Linked DNA regions of Homo sapiens. The protein of the gene in region 1 interacts with the protein of each later gene in a pairwise test. Each region holds a gene or a part of one and is shown in the gene's direction. Other genes may lie near its edges. The genes, in order: MTMR2, RSPH1 and CASS4.

The links.
Region 2: the proteins of MTMR2 (region 1) and RSPH1 interact in a two-hybrid assay, tested with the Homo sapiens proteins (one large-scale study listed by BioGRID and IntAct).
Region 3: the proteins of MTMR2 (region 1) and CASS4 interact in a two-hybrid assay, tested with the Homo sapiens proteins (one large-scale study listed by IntAct).

Annotation. Positions count from the first base shown.
Region 1 is NC_000011.10:95,861,519-95,865,171, reverse strand, and holds part of MTMR2 (phosphatidylinositol-3,5-bisphosphate 3-phosphatase MTMR2), read left to right. Parts: intron 1-2,805; coding exon 2,806-2,900; intron 2,901-3,069; coding exon 3,070-3,180; intron 3,181-3,653. UniProt on the Homo sapiens protein: Lipid phosphatase that specifically dephosphorylates the D-3 position of phosphatidylinositol 3-phosphate and phosphatidylinositol 3,5-bisphosphate, generating phosphatidylinositol and phosphatidylinositol 5-phosphate.
Region 2 is NC_000021.9:42,494,120-42,497,872, reverse strand, and holds the start of RSPH1 (radial spoke head 1 homolog), read left to right. Parts: upstream 1-1,648; 5' UTR 1,649-1,686; coding exon 1,687-1,740; coding exon of another isoform or gene 1,741-1,753; intron 1,754-3,753.
Region 3 is NC_000020.11:56,415,215-56,418,867, forward strand, and holds part of CASS4 (cas scaffolding protein family member 4), read left to right. Parts: intron 1-3,653. UniProt on the Homo sapiens protein: Docking protein that plays a role in tyrosine kinase-based signaling related to cell adhesion and cell spreading. Regulates PTK2/FAK1 activity, focal adhesion integrity, and cell spreading.

The DNA of each region.
Region 1 (3,653 bases):
GTCTTTCTTCTCTGAATAAAGTCAGGTTAATTTTTGGATGAAATACATCATCTCCATTGCATCTGTTTGTATGTAGATGCCCTTCTCTGCCCAGCCTAATACTTATAATATGGACTGGAAACTGAAAATGAGCTTACAAGCTGTGTTTTTTTTCCTCATGCTTTTGTTTTGTTTCATCTGTGTGATAATCTACAGATATCTACTCATAAACTCTGAGAAATAAAGTAATATGTTAGAAGAATGAAGTAAATGATTTCTTAGTTAATATAACTACCATGTTTCATTTTGTTACCAATCATAATTTTTAAAAAGGATTTTAAAAATGCTGAATTTTACTTGGCTAGGTGTCATTTCTATGTGTAAAAACAAGCCAAAGGCAGGACCTGTATTCTAAATGGATTATTATTTACTAAATTTAGCTTCCTAGTCCTTAGCATGCTATTTGTCTTTTCTTGCTCTTGGCTCTTGATTGAATAACCTCTCAGTCTTTTTCTTTTCCCCAGTTAGCCTTATATATACACCAAGCTCTTGATCTGAACTACCTACTTACATTTTTTCAGAATTGGCTATTATATAATGATAGTAGTTATTATTATTGAGTGCTTACTATCTCAGTCATTCTCAGAGAGTATATTCTTGAGAATAACATCAACCCCATTTTATAGGTGAGGAAGGAAACTAAGGCATAGGAAGATAACCTAGCTAATAAGGTTATATCTAGCATTGTGACAATTTCTTTTTCTTATTCTGAACTTAATGCCGTAATTGCAGCTCCCATTATGAAATATGGCTTTATTAAAGAACTTCAAGTTACCACTCAGTCTCATTTGTTGGCTCTTCTTCCTTTAATAGCAACACGCCCTAGGACTTCATCCTTGACCCATTTCCCTTTTCCCTCCTGTATACTCTTTTCGGTTGACCATATCTAAATTTGTAACATCACTTGCCATATATTGGCTGATGACTCCAAAATTTGTTATCTCCAGTGTGAACCCCTGTCCTAATGTAAGTAAACAAATGCCTCTATCTTAAACACACATCCTTGAATATCCCATAGGAACCTTATACCCAACATCTCCAAAATGGAAATCATCACGTTTAACTCCAAACTTACTCTTTTTCTTGCATTCTCTCTCTCAGTTGACATCAATACCAGCTGTCCATTTACTCAAGTCAGAAATCTGGTTGTCGTACTAGACTGCTCTTTTTTTCTTTTCTGGACTCTTAACATCCAGTCAGTGTCTAAGAATTTCTTGTATTTATCTTCTTTTCTCCATTGTCATGATCTCTTGAGGAATGATAGAGGGTACAGAACAAAGCAAAGACTAATGATGATAATAGTAACATAGGTATAAACCCTTGAATTTTTGTATTGTACTTAGAACTTTAGAAGCATCTTTATATGTATATTATCTCATGATTTTAGAATAAAGGGGAAGATGTAACAGAAAAGCACTGGCCTGAGAATGACATTCCTGTGGTGGGATATAGGATAATAAGGCTGAGTTTTCTTACATGAGTAAGAAAATTGACTGTGGAAGGAATCCAGAAATGTTTTAGTAACCTTGAATAAAGCTTTTCTAGTTGAGGTAAAAATTCATAAGGGAAAAATATTATTTGTGCAAAGCAAGTTTGTGTATTTTTGTATAATGATGGGTTCATTTAATTTTAAAAGCTTCCCTCTAAATGAAATATGCATTCGAAACGATTTAAAAAAGTAGTTTATACTTAAAATGTTCCTAAGGGAACTATTTTGAAGGTTAGAAATGATTGTGAAAAGATCAGTCTCATTTCAAATTCCATACAAAGCAGCCAGTCCTTCGAAGTGTTGAATGAGAAGCAAAGTCAGGAGGTTGTAATACCTTATTAAATATATTTCATGGCCCCAAGTTTTCCCAGAAGCCCGTTGAAAGGGTCTTAGAAAGTTGTTGCTCCACAGAATTGTCCCTTACTTCCTTGGAATGATGAAGATACTCCTTTATCTGCTGATTTGGTGTAATAATGACATACTAGGAATTTATGAATATTTTAAGATATAAAAACCATGTATTGGAAATTATGAACTGTGGCATTTTAAATAATATTTTGAGATACTGATTCCTAAGTTATCCTGCATAATCAGTTAATGCATATTTTACAAAACATAATGCCATGTAGATCCATTGTTTATTTGATAAAACATTACTTGTGATTATTTCTTTACAAAGTCTGGCATTGGTTGGTCAGCAGTACAATATCCTCTTCTTATACTGTTATTTTTCTAAGAAATTATATTTTAAATGTGTGTCATTTCACCTGTAAAATTTTCCCCATAAGTATTAATCAGATCAGGAGTTTGTGGAATAACATATGTTTTGGACATTGCATTTTTAGAAGAATGTTGACAAACTGGACAGGAAATTGGTGAGGTTACATAGAAACTGCAATGAGATGATGGCGACTGTGCCTTGACATGCTTATTGTTGATACCACCATTACCAGTATTCTTTCACCCGTCTCTGCTGCAGCTACCCACACCTGTTTTATCTAGCCAGGATAGTAGCCCCTTTGTTTACTTCCATTCTGTCTCATGGGATGAGAAGTCCCTCCACCTTTTCAGCCTATCCCATTTAATTCTGTGTTTCTTCCCCAGATTAGTGCAAGGATGGAAGCTTGGGTTGTAGGATTCTGAGGTCTCTGGAAATTACTGGTTCTGTTATTTTTCAGCATAAATTAGTCTAGGAATCATAACAATTTTATAAGATGAGATAGCAGGTTTTAATAGCACATAATGTATAGTAAACTGTGGACTTCTTGCTTTTTCAGCCAAAGATGTAACTTATATATGTCCATTCACTGGCGCTGTACGAGGAACTCTGACTGTCACGAATTATAGGTTATATTTCAAAAGCATGGAACGGGTAAGAGTCAGATTAGATTTTTGTATGTACATGAGTGTGTTGTTTGTAGCTAGTTTTGTTCATTTCTGATCATTTCTAATTAAAGCATTTCTGATTAAGATTTTGATCAGCTCTATAATTGGACAGTATTAATTGCTCAGTTTTAATTATTTTTTCTTTCCTTCTTTAGGATCCCCCATTTGTTTTAGATGCTTCCCTTGGTGTGATAAATAGAGTAGAAAAAATTGGTGGTGCTTCTAGTCGAGGTGAAAATTCTTATGGACTAGAAACTGTGTGTAAGGTAAATGTTATAATATGTATGTGATTTTCTTTGGTTTGAAAAGCTTTGTATTAAATAGAACCTCTGTTTTGAAATTGGTTTCTAAAATATAAAATGGATTTCCAATTAGAAATGTTATTTTAGTATGACATTGATAGAAGAAAACAAAATTTAGCAGTAATAGAAAAGGTGATTCATGAATTAGACTTAATTCTTTTGGGCCCAGTTCAGTCTACATATTTTGATATATTCACAAATTCATAACTTATTTTTTAATAATGATCATCTTGGCCGGACATGGTGGCTCACGCCTATAATCCCAACACTTTCAGAGACTGAGGCAGGTGGATCACATCAGGTCAAGAGTTCGAGATCAGTCTGGCCAACATGATGAAAACGCATCTCTACTAAAAATACAAAAATTAACCAGGCGTGGTGGCGGGCACCTGTAATCTCAGCTATTGGGGAGGCTGAGGCAGGAGAATTGCTTGAAC
Region 2 (3,753 bases), on another chromosome or scaffold:
TAACTCCCTTTCCTTAGATGTTCAATGGAGGAATGATAGTGAGGATTTAATAAGATAACTCATAAAATTCTTAAAACAGTGCCCACACACAGTGTCAGAACTTAGTAAACACTGGTTACTGTCATTGTTAGGACAAATTTGAAAGCTAAATTTCTGACATTTTAAATGTAAAAAACGAGTATTTATTTGCATATACTTATGTTACCATTCTAGATTTCTAACATTTAAAATGCTTCTGGCATTTTATTATAAAAATAGGACATGCTTAATTGTAGTAACTGGGTAACTGCCAATATGTAGAGAAGAAAATAATAATCATCTGTTATCCCTAACTCCCCACTTTTCCCCATAAGAAAAGCTGTTAAATTTTGGTGTTTACAACATTTTTATCTTTGCATCTAAAAAACGACATAATTTTGGAATCTCGTGTGTTGTTGTAACTTGTGTATTTATTCAGTAAGTAATATATTTGGGCCTGATGATGGGTTATGGTTGTAACCTTTCATATTAGCATTGGGAAGAATCTCTAGGGGATGTGTGCTCTGGAAGATCAGCAGCTTATTCACCGCGTGGATTTGGCTTCTGGGATTCTCCCATCAAGACCAAATCCTATAGTTATTCAGTCACTCCTCCCCAGCTCCTGCAGCAACAACAAATAACACAGCTTTGCAGTCTGGGATGATGGCAGAGGAAATGGGAGATGTGAGGGGCCTTCGGCAGGCGGAGTGCGTCAGGTAAAGCAGATTTCCAAGCCTGCACGTGTACATGCGTGTGCGTCTGTGATTGTGTGGGTGTGTGACAGTGTAGGGGAGCCAGGAGCGAGAGGAGAGGACGGCGATCGTAGGGGACACCTGAGAGTCAGAGGCCCGAGGGGGCTGGGACTCATGTCGAGGTCGGGGAAGGATGTAAAACCCGGACGGACATCACTGTAGGCCGCACCTGCTGAGAGGCCAGAGCTGCCTCCTTGAGAGTGAAGTTGTTTACAGACAAGAGAAGAGATCTTGGCGGACACATCACAGCTAGCCGCGAATCCCGAAGGGTCAGCAGAGCCTAGAAAGGTAAGTGGGGGTGGGCAGCATCCCCGGAGGGGCCTGCGAGGCCTGGGGGCGGAAGGGAGCGGGCAGTGCCCGCACTGGGCAGGGGTGAAACCCTCTCGAGAGTTGGCCCGGACGCGTTTCCCGCGTCCTTCCTCTTGAGGGCCCAGTACCCAGGTGGCTCCTCGTTGTGGCGTCACAGAACAGCCGACAAAAGTGATGGATTTCAGGGGCCAGCGACGGCGAGGTCCAGGTCAGAGAGCCGGTGGGCAGCCAGGCACAGAACCCGCTCAGGCCCTGCCCAGTCCCCGCCCCCTCGCTTCCCGAGCAGTGATTGGCCGAAGCGGCCCCTCGTTGCTATGACGGCACCAGAGTGCTGCCACTGGCTCCACCTCGTCCCTTCCGCCCCGCCCCTCCGTATTCCCGGGCGGTGATTGGTCGAGGTGCCCTTCCCGTTGCTATGACAGTACGCAAAGGCTGCCAGTGGCTCCTCCCGCTTCGTCCGCGTCGCCTGTCCCCGCTCCCCATCTTCCGGGCTGGGAGGGAGGCGGGACCGGCCGCGTCTCCATGGCGACGCGGGACGCGGCGGTGGAGGCGGTTGCTACCCACCTGCTAGAGGCGCTGCGGCTGTGATCCAGGCTGGGGCGAGACCATGTCGGACCTGGGCTCGGAGGAGTTGGAGGAGGAGGGAGAGAATGATATTGGGGTGAGAGCTCCTGGTGAGAAAGGGCTTCCCAGGGTGCGCAGCGGCGGGGGAACCTCGAGGTTGGGTTTGGAGAGTGAGGAGGCGCAGAAACCAGAGGTCTGAGCCACAGCTCCCCAGGATCCCCGGCAGGGACGAAGGCCACGCCAGACACACCTGCGTGCGTCCTGGAAGTTGATGGTGAAAAGTGAAACGCTGTGACGTCTGGTTACCACATGCCGCCTCGTTCTTCCCCCACCCCCATCCTGCCTCCCATTAAAGGCAAAGATTTCCCAGCGGAAGGCTTTGGAAGTTTCCTCCTCCCTGTGTTAATTCCCATCGAGGCAGTTTTCTCGGATGAGCAGATCATCCCACGCTGCCATACTGCCCTTGAATAAGTCATTTCTGTAGCTGAGATTTGCTCCCCCGGCATTTAGATGCATGGAGGATAGTTGCTTCCTGGCAGCCTCCAAGAAATGCTGAGGAGGCCCTGGGCTCAGGAGAGGGTTCCTGAAGATATTACCTTATAGGCGTATCCTCACATGTGCTTTCTTCAGTCCCCATCTGAACTGACCCAGGTCTTTGGAGTTATTTCCTGAGTTAGGCAGCAGAGAGGAGAAAGAGGGCACATCCAGCCTGTGAGCTGGGTTCTGTGTGGGAATATTTCTATCACCCAGAGAGTAGTTCCTCCCTACTCCAGAGAGTGACCTCTCCATGGCTGACAGATAGGGAACCTCAGCCACTATGGTCTGCATGCACAGTACAGAGTTGAGGTACTTTCAGAATTAACTGAAAAATCTAGCGACTCTGCAGTGGTGCTGTCAGTGCCTGCCCAGACCTTTTTGCTAGCTCTGGGCACTCATCTCCCAGCTTCCGCCTGATTTGCTACTCAAGCTATCACCTCTGTGCGCTGGAACTACCTGCCCAGTATGGAGAGCCAGAAGTGCCTGAAATTCACATCCGGCCAGACAGCCAGTAGCTAGTGCAAGAAGCAGGACAAAGTCTGCAGTGCGATTGATGCCCCCAGAGTCCCTGTTGGATTAGGCCAAGTCTGGGACTTCACCTGCAAAGGCATCCTTCCTTAGCTGCCTGCCCTTTCATGTCTACTTCCCTGCCCTCTTTACTACTTTCTCCCAGGAGAGCACTTAAAAAAATCAGGCCAGGCGCGGTGGCTCACACCTGTAATCCCAGCACTTTGGGAGGCCGAGGTGGGCAGATTGCCTGAGCTCAGGAGTTTGAGACCAGCCTGGGCAACACGGTGAAACCCTGTCTCTACTAAAATACAAAAAATTAGCCGGGCATGGTGGCGGGCACCTGTAATCCCAGCTACTCGGGAGGCTGAGGCAGGAGAATGGCTTGAACCCGGGAGGCAGAGGTTGCAGTGAGCCGAGATCACGCCACTGCACTCCAGCCTGGGCAACAGAGCGACTCTGTCTCAAAAAAAAAAAAAAATCACTTGTTCAGGGTCTGTTTCTAGGTGAACCCAACCTGCAACACTTGACCAGCAAGATTTCTAGTTTGTCTCCTCAAATGGCCCCACTGATTTGTAACTTTTTAGTGCCTATAATTTTTAGGTTCAGATCACATTTGGGGTCATTTTAAAGGATTTCTGTCTTATTCAGCCACCCCAGCGGCTCAGTGTTGGGTGTATTGGGAAGCCTCTTGGATAGAAGGAGGGGACTTTTGTACATTTTGATGTAAACTAACCCTGAAACAAATCTGTGAGGTCGCAGATTTTTACCTTATATTCTAGGCAGGAATTAGTGGTCCAAACAGTGCTAGAAAAGGGCAAGAATTGCACAGACGTTTATTTCTGAAGTCCTCAATGTAGTGTGTCAGTACTTGTGTTATAATAAGTCTATATACATCCAATTCAATTTCTTAATTTTAATTTTTAATAAATTTTATTATGTATATTTAAGAAATACAGTGTGATGTTATGAGATACCCATGTTAAATCATTACTGGATGCTTTCAGCATTTTATTATTTACTATATTCACTCTATACCCATGTATTAGGTGCTAAGGAACATTTA
Region 3 (3,653 bases), on another chromosome or scaffold:
TGTTTGTTTATGCAGTCCTTAAGATATGTACAGTCATTCTTCACTTATGGGTCATCCATCTAGATTTGGTCCACAGGCCCTTGTGTAGCAGCCTATGTCATCTCAGTTTACGTAGGCCACCCCCACCCACCCACGCAGTACCAGGAAACACCCAAGTTGTCGACACCTAGTTCAGAGGCATCCTCAGTTAACTGTTTCTTGGGTGTCCCTACAGAAACTATCAATGCATCTATAAGATACATGTTTTAAGGTTTTACACAAATAGGAGCTGTAAGTAAAGATCTGTTGAGCTTCTTGCCTTTAGCAACTACCAATACGTACTGGTGTTCAGTTCATATTAGTGCAGTTGATCCATCTCATTAATCTTAATGCCTACATTGTTGCTCAATTGCTTTATAAATGGTAGCACAATGCTTCAAGGGGTCATGTCATGTCAGTGGTCCTTAGCTTTGGGGCATTCGCCTTTAAAACAACCCTGCCTTTCATTCAGGGCCACCGCAGATAGCCTTTCAGACCCTGAAGTTCGCCTTTGTACATCGTATGGTAAACAGGGACTGTTCTCGCAAGCTGTTCCTAATTCTACCTGCTGGCCAGTAGCTCCGTTGCCAGTAGAGCTGCTTTCACCTTTGTGCATGGCAGATTTTGTGTAATATCCAGACTGATTTATTCTATTTTTTAAAAATTGTTTTATAGAACAAGGCGAAATTTTTTTAAAACACGTGATATTAGTGATAGGAAACACTGGCCTCAAAGGTGGTAAATTTAACACCTCATTCATTGGTTTGTGGAACTCTAGCCAACTAGTCAACTCCATTCAAGAAATACTAGAAATTTAGTTTTCGTGGGTTTTTTTGAGGTGGAGTTTCACTCTGTCGTCCAGGCTGGAGTGCAGTGGCATGATCTTGGCTCACTGCAACCTCCACCTCCCAGGTTAAAGCAATTCTCCTGCCTCAGCCTCCCAAGTAGCTGGGATTACAGGCATGTGCCACCATGCTCAGCTAATTTCTGTATTTTTAGTAGAGACGGGTTTTCACCATATTGGCCAGGCTGGTCTCGAACTCCTGACCTCAAGTTATCTGCCTGTCTCAGCCTCCCAAAGTGCTGGGATTACAGGCGTGAGCCACTGCGCCCAGCCAGAAATTTAGTTCTAAAAGAACTAAAATTGTCTAAAAGACAAGGAGGATAAGTGGGCTTATTATACGTAAGTTCTTATTTTGGATTTTTGGTAGTTTCAAGATGCCTTAGTTACGAAAATAGAGTCTGCAATGTACTTTAGTGATTCAGTCCTGTTTGCTATAAATTCTGTTTACTTCCGTGTGTGTGTGTGTGTGTGTGTGTGTGTGTATGCACACATGCCATTACAGGTAATATTGAAATTAGCATCTTCATACACAGCCCTTTTTTCCCCAATAACATGATTTTCTCACTGGAGTAAATGTCCAGGAATTGAAAGAGGATTTTACTGAATGAAATAAGCTTTGGCACTTATTTTCCATCATTTTCTGAGAATTTCTGATATTTGATTCTATTTTAAACCTACTTTCCCCAGTATTTTCTCTACAATCTGTACTTTCTTTTATAAAGACAGCTATGTGCTCATTCAGTTTTCTGAAGGCATTTTTCAAGCAAGCATCTTTACTATGTTACTGAAGAGTGGATGGTCCAATATTTATACTGTAAGAACATTTAAATGTGATTATCTTTCACATTTTAAATTCAGCCTCAATTAAAGAGCAAATCTTTTTTGTCTCTCTCCCATCTCAACTCTGAGTGGCATGGTTTTGGACCCACTCAAGAAGGATCAAGGTAAAAATGTAGAATTTTTTAAAAAATCTTCCACATCTCAAGGTTGGTTTAAACACGACAAAATGTGTTGGCTTGGAAGTGTGTACCACTTGCTGGGACTTGGCTTGCTTCAGTGCTTCTGGGCAAGAAAGCCTGGTGAGGCTTCGTTTGTGAGTGGAGAGCAGTTTTAGGTTCTCTTTGTACCTTTAGCAGCTCTGAGGTGGTGAGCAAGACATTTCAAACTCAGTCTTTGTTGAAGGGCAAATGGGATTGTGTGCAGAAAGCTGACCTGGCCCTTCAGGGCCCATTAGATCCCACTCCGAGCAGCTCTCCTGCCTCAGTTCCTTCCCCTTCTCCCCTGCTGTTCCCCGCCTTGGATTCTTCTCTCTCTAGCAAGCATCGCCTCACCCAGAGGCCTCTCTGGACCACGCTGTGCAAATCACTTCCCCCCTACACAGGCCCACCGCCAACACTCTCATCTATCTTACCTTCACTTATTAAGATCTGAAATTATCTCACTTTGTTTGTTCCTCTGTCTTCCTCTCTGGGAACGAAACTCCATGAGGGACAGACCTGGGCTTTCTTACTCAGTGCTGCATCTCCGGTGCCTACAACAGTGCCTGCACAAAGTAGTTGCTCAATACATGCTTTGTGGTAGTGTGTGAACGAATGGGAGCTTACAGGGAGTGCAGGTGGAGCCCTGGCTGCAGCCCCGCTGTGAGGATAGGAACAGCACTACTTTCTAGTCAGCAGGTGTTTGGCAACGGAGGTCATTCCTGACTCTCAGCTCTCTAACCCCTACCTGGCGTCAGCCTAAGCTGCCACTCAGCCTGTTCTCTTGACAATTGTCCCCCTCCTTGTCCATGGTCAGATGTTGCCTTAGATGCAAGCTGTTGCTATTGAAATCAAGGTCACAAAGACCTGTAGCCTCCCTCCAGCATTTCCCAGCAACTTCCTCCCTTCATCTATTCCACGAGGCAAAACAGCCCAGACACAACACCCAACTCGAAAACACAGCTCACCATCCATGCCTCAGCCATTCACCCAATGCATAGTTATTGGGCTCCGGGGGTTCAGGGTGATCAAGACAGAGCTGACATTCCAATGGAGTGAGCATGACAGTGAGTAAATAGACCCATGGTTTCAGGTGGTGAGAACTGCCAGAAAGAGGAGAAAACAGGGGGATCTGATGGAGGCGATGGATGGAAAAGGCCACTCTGAACACCCAAGAGATGGGAAAAGCTTTCCAGGAAGAGGGAACAGCAGATGCCAAGGGCCTGCAGTGGGAAGGTATTCAGCATAGTACAGGGCCCCTGTAAAGACCCATGGGGTCAAAGAAGAGTAAACCAAGAGAGAGAGGGGTCAGAAGTGAGATCTGAGGTGTAAGCAGGATAACATAGGGCCTGGTCGGCCGTGTAAGAGCTTTGAAGCCATTCTAATTGCAAAGGAAACCACCAGCCCACTTAAAGCAGGAGATGACATGATCTAATTTATGTTTTCTAGATCACTCAGGCTGCTGTGCAACAGATGGGCTGTAAGTAGGAAAGAGCAAAAGCTGGTAAACGTGGAGACTTCAGTGTAGGTGGCTTCATTTTCCACTGGGGTGGTACCCTGCTCTTCTCCATGGACACGAAGGAGAATCGTGTACTCTGTCTTTAAAAAAGTAGAACTTTTGATGTTTGAGACCGCTGGTCGCCGTGTCGGGTGGGGAGTGGTTGTGAGCAGAAAAAATAGTAAATCAAGGAGTAGATAGCTTCTATTTATGTGTGTTACGTTTGATTCAGGAACACAATGTACCTTTCATTCCGTCAACAAATATTGAATGCCTGCTGCACACCAGGCACTGTTCTAAATGCTTCCAAGTCCAA